2 linked regions of the Homo sapiens genome follow. The protein of the gene in region 1 interacts with the protein of each later gene in a pairwise test. Each region holds a gene or a part of one and is shown in the gene's direction. Other genes may lie near its edges.

Region 1 (7,028 bases):
AGTATAGTTTTCAAAGTATTTCTTTTTTTTTAGTTTTGTAATTCACAATACCATCATTCTTAATTATTAAGCTCTGTTTGTTTTTCCAGATCTTTTTACACCCTAAACATTAAGTTACACCACATATATCTTATCCACATTCAGTAATTTAGAACATTTTCTACTCAGGAATGTTTTGCAGCAGTTAACAAATATTTTATATTGTTCTCTTAAGCAAAATTGCTAAATCTAAAATTTTTATAAATGTTATTTCTAGTGAGTTATTCTCTTAGAACTGTGACTACAACTGGGTTTTTTTTTTAATCTCTGCCTAGTTCTCCCAAATAGGCTCAATAGTGTAGTTTTTGAGTATTTGACAAAATGCATATATTATTTTGTCTGTTGAGCTACAGAATGATTTGGCATGCTCTAAATAGGACTATAATATAATTATAATTTACATTTTGTTGTTTTGGGTGAGAAAGAATTCAAGACGGTTCTTAGTATTATAAGCATAAAAAGGGACCCAAGATGCTCCCTAGGATAGGATGCCTTCTAGAAAAGGTGGAGGATTGGGTTGCACCAACCATCTTCAGTAAGTTATTAAATTTATTTGTCTATTACTTACCCAGGCTGATCATTGTATTGTAATTCTGGAAAAATCTTTGTTCACTTTTGTGTCTTAATTGTTTAAATAACTTTTTTTTTTTAATAAAAGGGATGGAAAAAATAGAGTGAAGTGATAAGGAACAGAAATTAACTATACAATAGATTGAAGAAAAGAACATACATGCCACATACATGCATATATAACTGGAAAGGGTTATCTTTTCAGACTTCACATTTTTTTAAAAAAAGTTGATTTTTCAAATAGAATTCTGAAGATCAAGACCTACTATTTGATAGCACAATAGGGTGACGATAGCCAATAATAACTTAATTATATTTTTAAAATAAAGAGTGTAATTAGATTGTTTGTAACTCAAACAATGCTTGAGGGGATGGATACCCCCTTCTCCATAATGTGCTCATTTCACATTGCATTCCTGTATCAAAACATCTCATGTACCTCATAAATGTGTATACCTACTGTGTACCCACAAAAAATTAAAATGAATTGTGAAGCCTTTGCTTATGTTTTAAAAGTGAACTTGGCTTTCAGAACCATAAATTTGTTGATGTGTCAATGAATTAGGCCTGGACTATTCCTCAGTGCCTTTAGAAATGAGTTTGATTTTGTCTGTCTTCTCCTTTTCATTAAAAAAAATTCACATCCAACTTTTTGGTTAGTATTGATTGTGGTTAAGAATGTGTTTCTTTGGGTGGAAAAAATGTTGTTTGATTGAGCTATTAGCTCTTCACTCTGTAATTCTTTCTCAAGGGGTATTTTTCTTTGCTGTTTGTAGAATTATGGCCAGGATGATGTCAGTTTGTACAGTTTTTCTCTAGAAGCGTGTAAATTTAAAAGTCATAGGCTGGATTTGACCTAGGAGGCCAAGTGCAATACTCTTAGTTTTGGTATTGCCTTATTTGGAAGCAAAGTCTATACCATCTGGCCTCATAAAGCCTTCTCTAGCTCTGTGGTCACATGATTCATAAAAACCAAAAATCTGCTAAGTCTCTTGTAATATAGTCCTTGAAAGTATCACATGTAGATTTCATCATAAATTTAAAATGTGTAATAGTAGTCTCTTGTAATATAATCCTTAAAAATATCAATTACAGATTTCATCATAAATTTAAATTTATAATAATTTTGATCTGCTTATTTGGGTAAAAGGCATATATCCTGTCTACCTTTCCTATTTTGTTCATATGTACGTATATACATACATATGTATTTAATTTTTATTTTTTAGTGTTAAATTGAAATACTCTGATGTCCAAACTGCCGACGATGTTGCCATTCCAGAGGATTTCTCAGACTTTTCCCTTGCAAAAACAATTAGCAAAATTGAAGGGCAACTGGAGGAAGAAGGCTTACCTGAATATATAGATGATATTTTTTCTGGTGTTAGTAATGACATTGGAACAGGTAGATTTTCTTTAGTTTTTTATTTTTATCTTTATAGCACAGTTACTTAGAAGAAGAAATCTTGGGGAACTATTTCTTCCATTTAAAAAAATGTATTGTGATGTCTTGGTTTGTTTCAGAATTATCTAGTAGGATGTGGTGGAGGGAGGAATGAATGGGATTATAGATTAAATAAAATTGGCCATGGGTCAGTCATTGTTAAAGATAGGTGGTGGGTAAATGAGGTTCATTGAACTCGCCTACTTTTATGTTTCATATTTTCCATTATAAAAAGTAAAAATAAAAAAGACTATATTGTACTGATTTGATTGAATACATTTCAACTTAAGTTAAAATACCCATTGCTTATTGTTAAAATATTAAAAAAGTTTTTCTGAATTTTTTCATTTACTGTTAATATATTTTATTTATTGCATGTTAAATCAACACATGCAAAAGGACAAATGAATTGACATTGCATCAGGTAAAACAATCAAATGAGTGTTCTAATGAATATAATTTTTCTTCTTATTAACTCATTCTTTGCATATCACTAGAATAATAATACTAAATTTTGATCAACTGAAAACATTAGTAAATTTATGAGGAGCCTCCTATGCTATTGAAACAAAAAAGTAAGACAATTGAGTATATATGAACTAGTTACTGCTGAACTATAATACAATTAATTGTGACTACAGGCAAGCCACTTAGCCCCTCTGTAATAGCAGTTTATTCATTTGAAAATTTAGTAGTTTGTATTAGATGATCATTAAGTTTATGTATTAGTCTGTTCCTGCACTGCTATAAAGAAATACCTGAGACTGTGTAATTTATAAAGAAATGGTTTAATTGGCTCATGGTACTGCAGGCTGTATAGGAAGCATAGCAGTTTCTGCTTCTGGGGAGGCCTCAGGAAACTTCCAATCATGGCGGAAGGCAAACAGGGAGTGAGGCATCTCACACGGTGGGATCACGAACAAGAGACGGGGGAGGTGCTACATGCTTTTAAACAACCAGATTTCATGAGAACTCACTATCATGAGGACACTACTAAAAGGGATGATACTAAACCATTCATGAGAAACCACCCCCATGATCCATTCACCTCCCACCAGGCCCCACCTCCAACACTGGGGATTACAATTCAACATGAGATTTGGGTGGGGACACAGATCCAAACCATATCAGTTTATCTTTAAAATTCTCTGATTCTGTGAAAAATCATAATTTATATGTATAATAATTATTGTGTTACTAATCACAAGTAGGGAGCAGTTTTCTTCTGCACTTACTATATTTACTGATCTAATCAAGCTTTCTAGGGCTAGTTATGGTAAGGGAAGGTAAATGGAGCAGTAAGTTGCCTTTAGGTCTCTCTAAGATGCTTTAGAGGATGTGATGCACAGGCATTGATTGTTCCTCGGTAGAGGAACATGGTCCCATGTCCCATGGCCCTGTTAGAACTTTGCCTCCCTGTGTTCCCTTTTTAGTATCACTGGCCTAGGTGTCTTCTCTTTTGGGAGAATTTTCTCTTATTTTAGATGATTGCTTGGAATGGTTTGGTTATGTGTGGGAGAAAAAGACCAAGAGGTAATTTGGGAGCACAGATTACTTTGTAAGATTAAAGCTAGGGTCGAGTGGGGAGCAGAGTTTAGTACTGTGGGCCTCCAGACATGGGAGCACTCTGCTCCTTGAGTTAGAGTTGAGGTAGAGTTACTAAGGTTAGAGTTAGGGAGAAAAAGAAATGGGAAAAGTCATGCTTTCCTATTTTTTCTTCCCTCTTTCCCTCAGAGGCCAACTACTGTCAACTTCACCCTTTTTAATTTGTCATTTCCCTCTACTCCCTACTCACCTGGAGTTACATGAGAGGCTGGTAGGAGAGTTGAGGCCAAAGAGACCTAGGTAGGGTTAGAGCCAACCATAATTCATCAGCTCCATGATAACACTGAGGGCACTTAAAAAAGCTGGAAGTGTGTATGGAGATGTTTTATGCTCTGCACGTCACATGTGTATGGCTTAGTGAGATTTGTCCTAATGACTTCTCAGAGCAGTTCCAAGTGTTTCCTCAAGATAAATTCCATGATGGTAAGGGTTGTTTTATAATATTCCTACTATGCCATTTTGAACAAATCACTGAATGACTTATGAGTGAGTTCTAAGTTCAGTTTTCACTTTATTTACTTTATGGGCCTATAAACTTCAAAGATTTACTGCTGATATTATTGAATAATGAACTTTTGCTGGCAGTAAAGTACCAAAGATAGATCCTGAAGGTTTGTGGGAGAAAGCTTAGACAGTAAGGTATTAGTGTATTTCTTTGCTTCAAAGACACATATACTACATTTTAACTGCTCAGAAATTGGGATCTGTGTTACAGTCAGTGGCATTTTGTAATCACAGTGGCTGCACTGAAGCTGAGTTTTGCTAGAGAAGATTTATGTTTGTTTCTGCCAAACTCTCAGGGACATTACTGACCTGAGAACACTTTAAATAATCTGATGTAGTTTGGACCACCCTGGTGCGTGTGAATTTAGTCTGCAAACTTATGTGAATACTACCTGTGATTTCTTTCTGTTGAGTGGATTTATTCGTCATTGACCTTTTCATTAGGACTGTTGAGTACCTATAGTGCCCCCTAACAGATATCTCCTATTTGACTCCCCATCTTGAGTATTTTCTTCTTTATAAAGTAATGGTCTGTCTTACAATTGATGTCATCTTAGATTCAGCAAAAGACAGTAAATATAATTATTTAAATTCACAGAAGCACAGATCAGATTTCTAAAGGCCAAACTCCATGTTATGCAGGAGGAATTGGATAATGTTGTATGTGAATGCAATAAAAAGGTAAGTTTTAAAAACCTCTTAAAAGGCTCTAATATTCAAAGATATTTTAGGAGCAATTTCAATTACATTTTTTGAATTACTTTATTTAGATATAAATCATAGTTAAATTTTGAATTCAAAAATTGTATATAAGTACTGAACTTTATTCTGAGATGTTGAATTTTCACAGAGCTGAAATATCTTAAATTCTTGCTACAATTAGAATTCTCTATATTAGTCTTACAAATGTAGTGTAAGCTATTAAATGCAAATAAAACATTTGACTTCCATTTTTGAAGATAAAAATAGACTAATTTGTTTTTCATGAAACGTGTATAAATATCAAAGAACATATGAAACGTCTTTTTTTCTGCTTTGTTTTGATAACAAATCTTACATATTTTTTCACATAATCTATAACTTTATAACTATAGGAGGATGAAATTCAGAATTTAAAGTCTCAAGTAAAAAATTTTGAAGAAGATTTTATGAGACAGCAGCGAACAATTAATATGCAACAGTCTCAAGTAGAAAAATACAAAACTCTTTTCGAAGAAGCAAACAAAAAGTATGATGGATTACAGCAACAGTTGTCTTCAGTAGAAAGGGTAATTATTTGGTATTTTTCCTAACTTAATGCCACAGATACAAGAAAATTATTAAGGTTACACATTTGTATAGATGCCATTTTGACAGTTCAGTTATTTTATTAGTATTTACTGAAAACTCTTTCCCCTTACATAGAATATTTTTAACAACTTTATTGAGATGTAATTCACCCTTTTAAAGTATGCAATTCAATGGCTTTTGGTGTATTCATAGAATTGTGCAACTATCACCACAACCATTTTCATAATCCCTAAAAGATACTTCATACCCTTTAGCCACCACACCCTGACCCTGCTCCCCTCAATCCCTTACAGCCCTAGGCAACCACTATTCTATTTTATGTCTCAATAAATTTGTCTATTCTGGAAATCACATATACGTGGAATCATATAATATGTGGTCTTTTGTGACTGACTTTTACTTAAGATATTTTCAAGGTTCATTCATGTTGCAGCCCCTATCAGTATTTTATTTCTTTTTATTGGCAAGTAACATTCTGTTATATGGATATAACACATTTAATTTATCTGTTTATCAGTTCGTAGCTTTAGGTTATTTGGGTTGTTTCTACTGTCTGACAATTTTAAATACTTTGAATATTCATGTACAAGTTTTTGTGTGCACGTATGTTTCTATTTCTCTTGGTTATATAGCCAGGAATGGAATTGCTGGGTCATATGGAAATCCTATGTTGACCTTTTGAGGAATTGCTGACTGTTTTCCAACCTGCCTGTACCATTTTACATTCCTACCAGTAGTGCATGAAGCTCCTAATTTCTACACATCCTCACCAACATCTGCTAGATTATCTTTTTGATTATAGCCATACTGCAAGTGTAAAAGGGTTACCTCATTGTGGTTTTGATTTGCATTTCCCTAATAACTAATGATGTTGAACATCTTTTCATGTGCTTATTGGCATTTGTATATTTTCTTTGGAGAAATGTCTGTTAAGGTCTTTGCCCATTTTTTAAATTGGATTTGAAAAAATTACTGAATAATAAGAACTTTTAAGTTCTTTATGTGTTTAGATACAAGTCCCTTATCAGGTATATTTTGCAAATAGTTTTCCCCTACAGTGGGTTGTCTTTCACTTTCTTTATGGTACTCTAAAGGCACAAAAGTTTTAAATTTTGATGAAGTCCAGTTTATCTAATATTTATTTGGTTTCCTGTGCTTTTGGTGTCATATTTAAGGGGAGAATGTATTTTAAATAAACTATCCTAGCTTATATTAGTGTGCCATTGTGAAAATAAAAATATACTGTTTGAGATTGCTTTGTAAAATGTAGTGACGATAAGAATTATGTAATATAGCATATCCCGAGATTTAGTAAGAAAATGTGCCCCCTTTATTAGTACCCTTACATTTCTCGTTTGTATGGTCATATTTAAAAACCCTGCTTTTTAAACATTTTGGTCTTGTATAATTAGCTTTATCTTGTAATAAATTTTAATATCAAAATCACTTAGACAAAATTTATATGCAGTAAATTCACACTTTTTAGTGTACAATTCTATGAGTTTTGACAAATGTATGCAGTAATATAACTATCACTATAATTGAGACATAGAACAGTTCCATCAGCCCCCCAAAA
Region 2 (7,028 bases), on another chromosome or scaffold:
GATCTGCAAGATTGCACGTTCTTTAAAACTTGAGTAAACAGGGCTATACATTTTTTACTGTTCCAACTGGTTCTGTGTCCATCAAACAGCTGCATTGAATGAATTAGCCCAGAATATTTGCATTCAAATAACCATATTGTAACATTTTTAAATATTTCACATTGCCATTCAAAATATATTATGCTTATTACATTTTAGATTTAAAAAGATAGACTTTTCAAACCTATGGAATATTTTCCTTAATATATTTTATTAGCTAATTCCACCTTGTTAATGATGTGAACTGTAAAGATATTATGCTGATTTTTAAAATTTAACTTTACTGTTAATGTCAGAGATCTGTTCTAGTTTTATTATTCCTCCACTGACTATATAGTTATGATATGTTAGTATGATCCTTAAAGCATGCTACACATATGTTATCATTGCATGGAGGCAGTTTTGAACACTGTCAATTTAAATTTTCCCTTCATAAAGGTTATTCACTATCATTTTACTTTGTTGGTAGATTCGAGAATATCTCCTGCTGCTTACAAAGATAGTATTATTCATTTGGCTGGGGCCATCTATATATTTGAATGATCATGTGTGAAATCTATATTGTTAATCTGGCTTCTAATGATTGGTGGCTGTGCCACTCCAGATTCAATCTCAGGTGACTGAAACTCAAATTTAAGCAAAATTTAAAAGCATGTGGGTGGGTGGAGGATGTATGGTATTATACAACTTAAGGGTCCAGGGCTTAATTTCAGTAATAGTGAGATCTAGATGCACAAATGATGCTATCACGACTCTATGCTCCTTAGCTCTGCTGGATTCAGCTTGATTTGACTCAGGCCAGCCATCTCACGTAGAGGCAAAGATGCATGCTTAGCATAGAGAAGGTTGGTACCCAAGGGATTGGCAATTTTACCTGGTAGAGCGAGGGGCCATTTCTGAAAGAAAAAGGTGCTGGGCCAGCAAACAAGTAGGAGATACCATAACAGGCCCCGTGGTTGGTCTTGGACACAATTATAGAAGTTAATGAAAATTGTCTGGATTGGCATTCATCTTCCTTTACACACTTGCCTTTCTCCTTCTACTTTGGCAATCCACTGAGATTCCAAAACTCAACATTTTCATTTCTTTTGCTAACTCCCATGATCCTCCAATGCTGAAATCCTGTGTAGTGTTACCAGCCCAGTGATGAATGGATGGCCTCTACTTAACTTCTCTACCACTCTTCTCAGTGTCGGAGGTTATCTCATCAAGTTAAATTAACTGAGCCTTAATGAAGTCATTGATAATGTGAATAATATAATTACTACTCAGGGTTCTCCAGAGAAACAGAATCAATAAGATATATAATATATAGAATAAAGTATTGGCTCATGAGATTATGGAGACTGAGAAGTGCCATGATCTGCTATCTGCAAGCTGAATATCCAGGAAAGCCAGTGGTGGAGTTCAGTTCAAGTTTGAAGCCCTAAGAACCAGGGGACTCAGAATTCTCAGTAAGTCTCTTAGCTCAGCAGTCAGGCAGAATAGGCAAATTTTCCTTCCCTCTGCTTTGTATTCTATTCAGGCCCTCAAGACACTGGATTATGCCCTTAGGCCCTCCCCTCACCCACCCTACACACACACTGTGAAGAACAATCCGTTTTAGTGAATCCACCACTTCCACTGCCAATCTCATCCAGAAGTATCCTCACAGACACACCTGGAAATAATGGATAGCCAAATACCTGGACACCGTGTCATCCTGTCAAGTTGACACATAAAACTAACTGTCAGATATATTAATATCATTTATTATTATTATGTATATATTTGAAACCATTTATAATGTAATATATTAATATATTAATACTAGTTCTTCTGTGAAGTTATTATGTCAAGGTTAAAGCTCCATGTAAATTTTAAGATGCTTCATTAATACAAAACATTATTAAATAGGCTCCAGCCCATATAAAATACATATATTCTATTAGATTGGCTCAGGGGAAATTCATAGTTAGATGTTAAATAATGAAATGGGTTTAATATGTCTTGTCACAGAGGTACTTCTATTTTAAAAGTTGGTGTCAAGAAATACAGTGCCTTAGGAATTGATTTCTACTGATATTATAACAATAACCTCATAAGTAGTCATGCTATAGAGACAGCATAGAATAGTGTTAAGATGATAAACTCAGAGCCAAACTGCATGGGTTCAGATCCTTTTTCACTTGCTAGCTATGTGACATTGGGAAAATCACTTAACCAGTTCATTGTAAATGAGTCATATATTTAAAAGGCTTAGAATAGTGCCTGATGCATAATAGCTGCCCATAAATACTTTGTTGAATGAAAATTGCTCTGTGGCAGAGTATCTTGGCACAAAACCAAATGTGTAGTGATACTTAATGTAAAGGTTTGCTGAGGGAAGAAATGATTGACTTTGAGATAGATACTTGGAGTTGGAGCAGGAGATTTTAGAAATTACTACTAACCATGTTGGTCTTAAAAGTTGTATGTTATTGCTGTTTATTAAGAGTTTATTCTCTTAAATATATATTTTTCCTAAAATAAATATATTCCAGAATATGTTTAGTCCTAAGTTGAAAAAAGAAAGCTTGTCACTATTTCCTTCTATAGATGTTTTGTATTTAAGAAACTGTAATTATCTGCATTTGATTACAATAGTGTATCTTTATTCTACTTTATCCAGCAAAACAAATAAGCAAAACTGTGTATGAAGCACTAATAAATTATTTAAATAGATTCTATTATATGTGGAAATTTTATAGCAAGTGATAATTCTTCTTACTCAAGATTTATAAATTGCAGCTTACTGTTCTATAAGAAAATGTAAATAATGTATCCAATTTATTTAGGTGGAATAGCAGTTTTAGGGGAAATCACTTATAAAATATTTTGTTTAAAGATTAACATGTACATAAACCAATGCATATTTTATGTTCTTTCAATTATACACACATGTGCATACACGCACACACACACACACACACACTTAGAAAGAAAAACTTCATATCGAGGAGAAAACCTTATGTGATCACTCTTAGCTCTTAGGCAGACCTAGGTTCACACAGTAGTTATATAATCTCATTCTTTAGATAAGAAGAGGTTGTTTAGATGTTCTAAAGCTGTTTCCTTATCTGTAGAATCTGGAGGATAATCCTTTCTCACCAGGTTGCTATGAAGCTTAAGGGAACCAATTGACTAGGTATGCAGTTGTTCTAAGTACTAATTTCTTCTCTTTACCTCTCACTTGCTTCATTATTTGCTTTATTGTATGTGATGTCTCAAAAAATATCTTTTATATCATGAAACAGAAATAAATAGAGAATACTCATTTTTAAATTTGATTACATCTTAGTTTAGTATCTTATCAAAACTACCTAGAATATGCTAAGAAGATTGATCAATGTTATGGTCTCAAAGAGTATATAAAATAGTTTGTGGTTATGCTGTACATGGCTGATTCAAGCTCCTTATCACACCATATACTTGGATTTTCTGTATTTCCAGGTCACTCTTCCAAACTTACTCTGGAATAATCCTAGAGGGTCCCAAGAGAAAATATTTGGAATAAGTGTAATCCCAAAATGAAAAGTGATCAAAGCCAGTTTATTTATTTTAAACAGCCCCATTAACATGTAGATATACTTATGCATTGTATTCTGACAACGGAGGCTCTACGAAGGCTATCTATCAGCTGTTTCATGTGAAAATGAACTGTTAAACATTTTCAATTTTTCAGATGTTTAATTATTTTTACATGGAAATATGTGTCACTATTATTTAATTGTTCTTGCTTTAAATTTGTTGTGTCTTTTGAATGGTGTTAGAATCCAGAAACATTAAACTTAACAGAGGATTAGGAAGAAACCCGGTTCCCATTTTCTAAACCCAAATCAGATGACCTCTTAAGACTCATAGACAATTAATACATTTATTTTAAAGCATGTTAACTAATAACTAATAGTCAATAATATTTTGTATAGCTCTTGCTGGGTAAGTTAATTGAACATCCCTCAGTTTCCATAACTGTTTAAAGAATACTAATAAAGTTAGCATAATACTGATATGATATAATACAATATTATATAAAGTGTAATACTAGTACTAATATTGACAATGCTCTGAGGTCATATTAAGTTCTAAGAATATGTGACTCAATGATTCCCTTGCAAAATCGATTACAGATTGCTTTTTTATTTGGAATATGAGTATTGAGAGGAAACACTAATTGCTCTTGCATAGCTAAGTTCAATAAAACTTTCTGCAGTGAAGGAAACGTTCCATGCAGCTAACAAGTACTTGCAATGTAACTAGTGTGACGTGACCAAGGAAATGAAATTTTAATTTAATTTGAATTAATTTTTATTTAAACTAAAATCACCACAGCTCTAGAGTTATCAACTCATAAACAAGATTTTTGAGAAACAGTTGAAATTAAAGATGAAACATAAAACTTATAAGCTTGTGCAATGAATTTAAAAGCAGTTATTTCACCTTCTCTTTTCAGTCTCCTGCACATAGTTACTCCAGCTATGACTCTGGCAAAAATGAGAGTGTAGACCGAGGAGCTGAGGACCTCTCACTAAACAGGGGAGATGAGGACGAAGATGACCACGAGGACCATGACGATTCGGAGAAAGTTAATGAGACAGACGGCGTTGAAGCCGAGCGGCTGAAAGCTTTTAATGTGAGTCCTGCCACACTCCAAGTGTGGTTTAATTTTTACCACTTCACTTTCATGTTGTTGCTTGTTGGTAAATGTGGATATTTTAGAGACATGTTTGTTTAATTTACAGAAGGATTTAAAAAGTACATGAAACACTCTTTGCCAACCAGACACCAGAATTGCTGTGTTTTGTTTAGAATTTTAAAGCCAAATGTGAGCTGAAAACTGGAGTTGTGTTGTGTGAGTATGCATGTTTACCTAGTGGATGGAGGGGGCCTCAGCTTAGTCCTCGGAAGAGTACGCCCGTCATCTGTTATTTCTTTTGCTTTCCTAGCTTATCTAATTATGCATGACAAAAGAGTCAGTTGTTTGATTTCAGAGATTAGTCCACTGTGCAGTGTAGCAATGTAACAGTCGTATTCATCATTAATAGAGATTGTAAAGGGGTGCTCAATTGTCACAGTCTCTGTTATTTCCTGATTTTTTTCTACACGATAGTCTATTCTTTTCTGTATGTTTGTCTGTCTGTCTGCCTTTCTCTCTTTTTCTCTCTATTTTTTAATCCAACCATTTAGAAAGTCTTTAAAGAGTGTTTGCTTAAAATTTCTGGCTTTCCATTGCAAAGTTCTCCAGTGCATAAACCAGAAAACAGTATTTTCCTATCGGTAATCAAGACAGGAAGCTAGGAACAGAAGAGAGCAGCCCTCCAAACCCTTCTCCTCTGTCTCCCTCTTGCCAACAGATGTTTGTCAGGCTGTTTGTAGATGAAAACTTGGACCGAATGGTCCCAATCTCTAAGCAGCCCAAAGAAAAGATCCAGGCTATCATTGACTCATGCAGGCGACAATTCCCTGAGTATCAAGAGCGTGCCAGAAAACGTATACGTACTTACCTCAAGTCCTGCAGGCGGATGAAAAGAAGTGGTTTTGAGATGGTGAGTTTTGAATTAAAACACAGCCCTAGACTCCATCAAAATCCCACATGTAAACCATGACACTATTTTTTTTCCATCTTAGTGTCTTTTTTTATTTTTTTCCATAATGTCAGGTCAAAGGGGGTTTTGTTTGCTCGTTTGTTTTTTCCCCTTCTCCTTTTCATCTTCCTGAAGTATTTATTCTCTTTGTTTATTTAATAAGGAATATCTTGTGAGTCCAGTGCTCACAGAACCACGTGGTACCATGTCACAGAAAATAAAGGTGATATGAGTAAACACCAGTGAGAACCAGCATCTCGTTCATATTTGTTTTCTTTCTGTCGCTACTAAAGTGGGCATGAGGTTATTTAAGTTGTGAACTGAAGCACCAGTCACTGCTTGAGATGGCATGTAACAATGGCATTCTCTAAATCAAAAGGAAACAGATGGATCTACCTAGGAATACCATTTTCATATCAATGGTTAACAAATTGCAGTCCTTGAAAGTAAAGATCAGAGAATGAAAATGCTTAGGTGAAATATAAGGATTTGTTGTACTGGATATGTTTATTTGTGTGCTGGTGGATGGTACCAAGAGCTTTCATATTCAGGTGGATGTTATAGACAGATGAGATTATGTTGACATTAGATTACTGATAGGGTGGAGATTAGAAATCAATGATTTTTAAACTTTATTCTATTTCACCTTGCTCTAATTGTTACATCTAGAAATAACGCACACATTTACAATGTATGCCTTTCCCATTTTCTTATTTCCTATGTATGTGAGCAGTTTCGAAATTTTGTGAAACCATTTTTTTCTTGTCTTATTTGAGAAGGCGCCATAAAAGCCTAGGCTGTTAGTGTTTGTGATCTGTGAATCTAATTAGTTAGGTGTGATTGGGTAGGAATTGGTGTACATAAGAGAGGTTTCAGAGTATGTCTGTACCAATTATCTCAAATCATAAAATCTCCAGAGTTGGATATAAAAGGCCATGCTTTATGAAAGATAAATCTAATAAATCTAATGTTTGATCAATACTGTCTTCATTTTCATTAGATTTTAGAAACCCAATGAGTTAAGTAACCATTAAATTAATCTGTAGACAAATATATCAAATTGTTATTGAGTCTGTTGTGTGGCTTTGATGCTCAAATTCAGCAATTTCTCTGAAGAATATTTATTGTTCCAGAAGGTGTCCTGATCTTAAATTCATAGTAATAGAAAAGTCCATAAAAAGCACAGCTTTATGAACAAGGTAGGGCATCTCCAATAGGTGACATGATTTCTGTTTTTTGTTTCCTGAATTTGCATTATGAGACTCTTTCACCAAGGTGCATACATGTATTTCTGTAAAACCCAAATGACAATATTTAGGGAATATATAGGAGACTTTTAGTCCATTGCTCCTCTTGTATCCCAAGTTTTGCCACTGTACCTAGTTA

What was found.
Region 2: the proteins of TEX9 (region 1) and NOL4 interact in binary tests that used the Homo sapiens proteins (3 or more experiments, as listed by UniProt).

What each region holds. Positions count from the first base shown.
Region 1 is NC_000015.10:56,389,405-56,396,432, forward strand, and holds part of TEX9 (testis-expressed protein 9), read left to right. Parts: intron 1-1,838; coding exon 1,839-2,014; intron 2,015-4,760; coding exon 4,761-4,843; intron 4,844-5,256; coding exon 5,257-5,430; intron 5,431-7,028.
Region 2 is NC_000018.10:33,955,901-33,962,928, reverse strand, and holds part of NOL4 (nucleolar protein 4), read left to right. Parts: intron 1-4,510; coding exon 4,511-4,690; intron 4,691-4,799; exon of another isoform or gene 4,800-4,909; intron 4,910-5,411; coding exon 5,412-5,603; intron 5,604-7,028.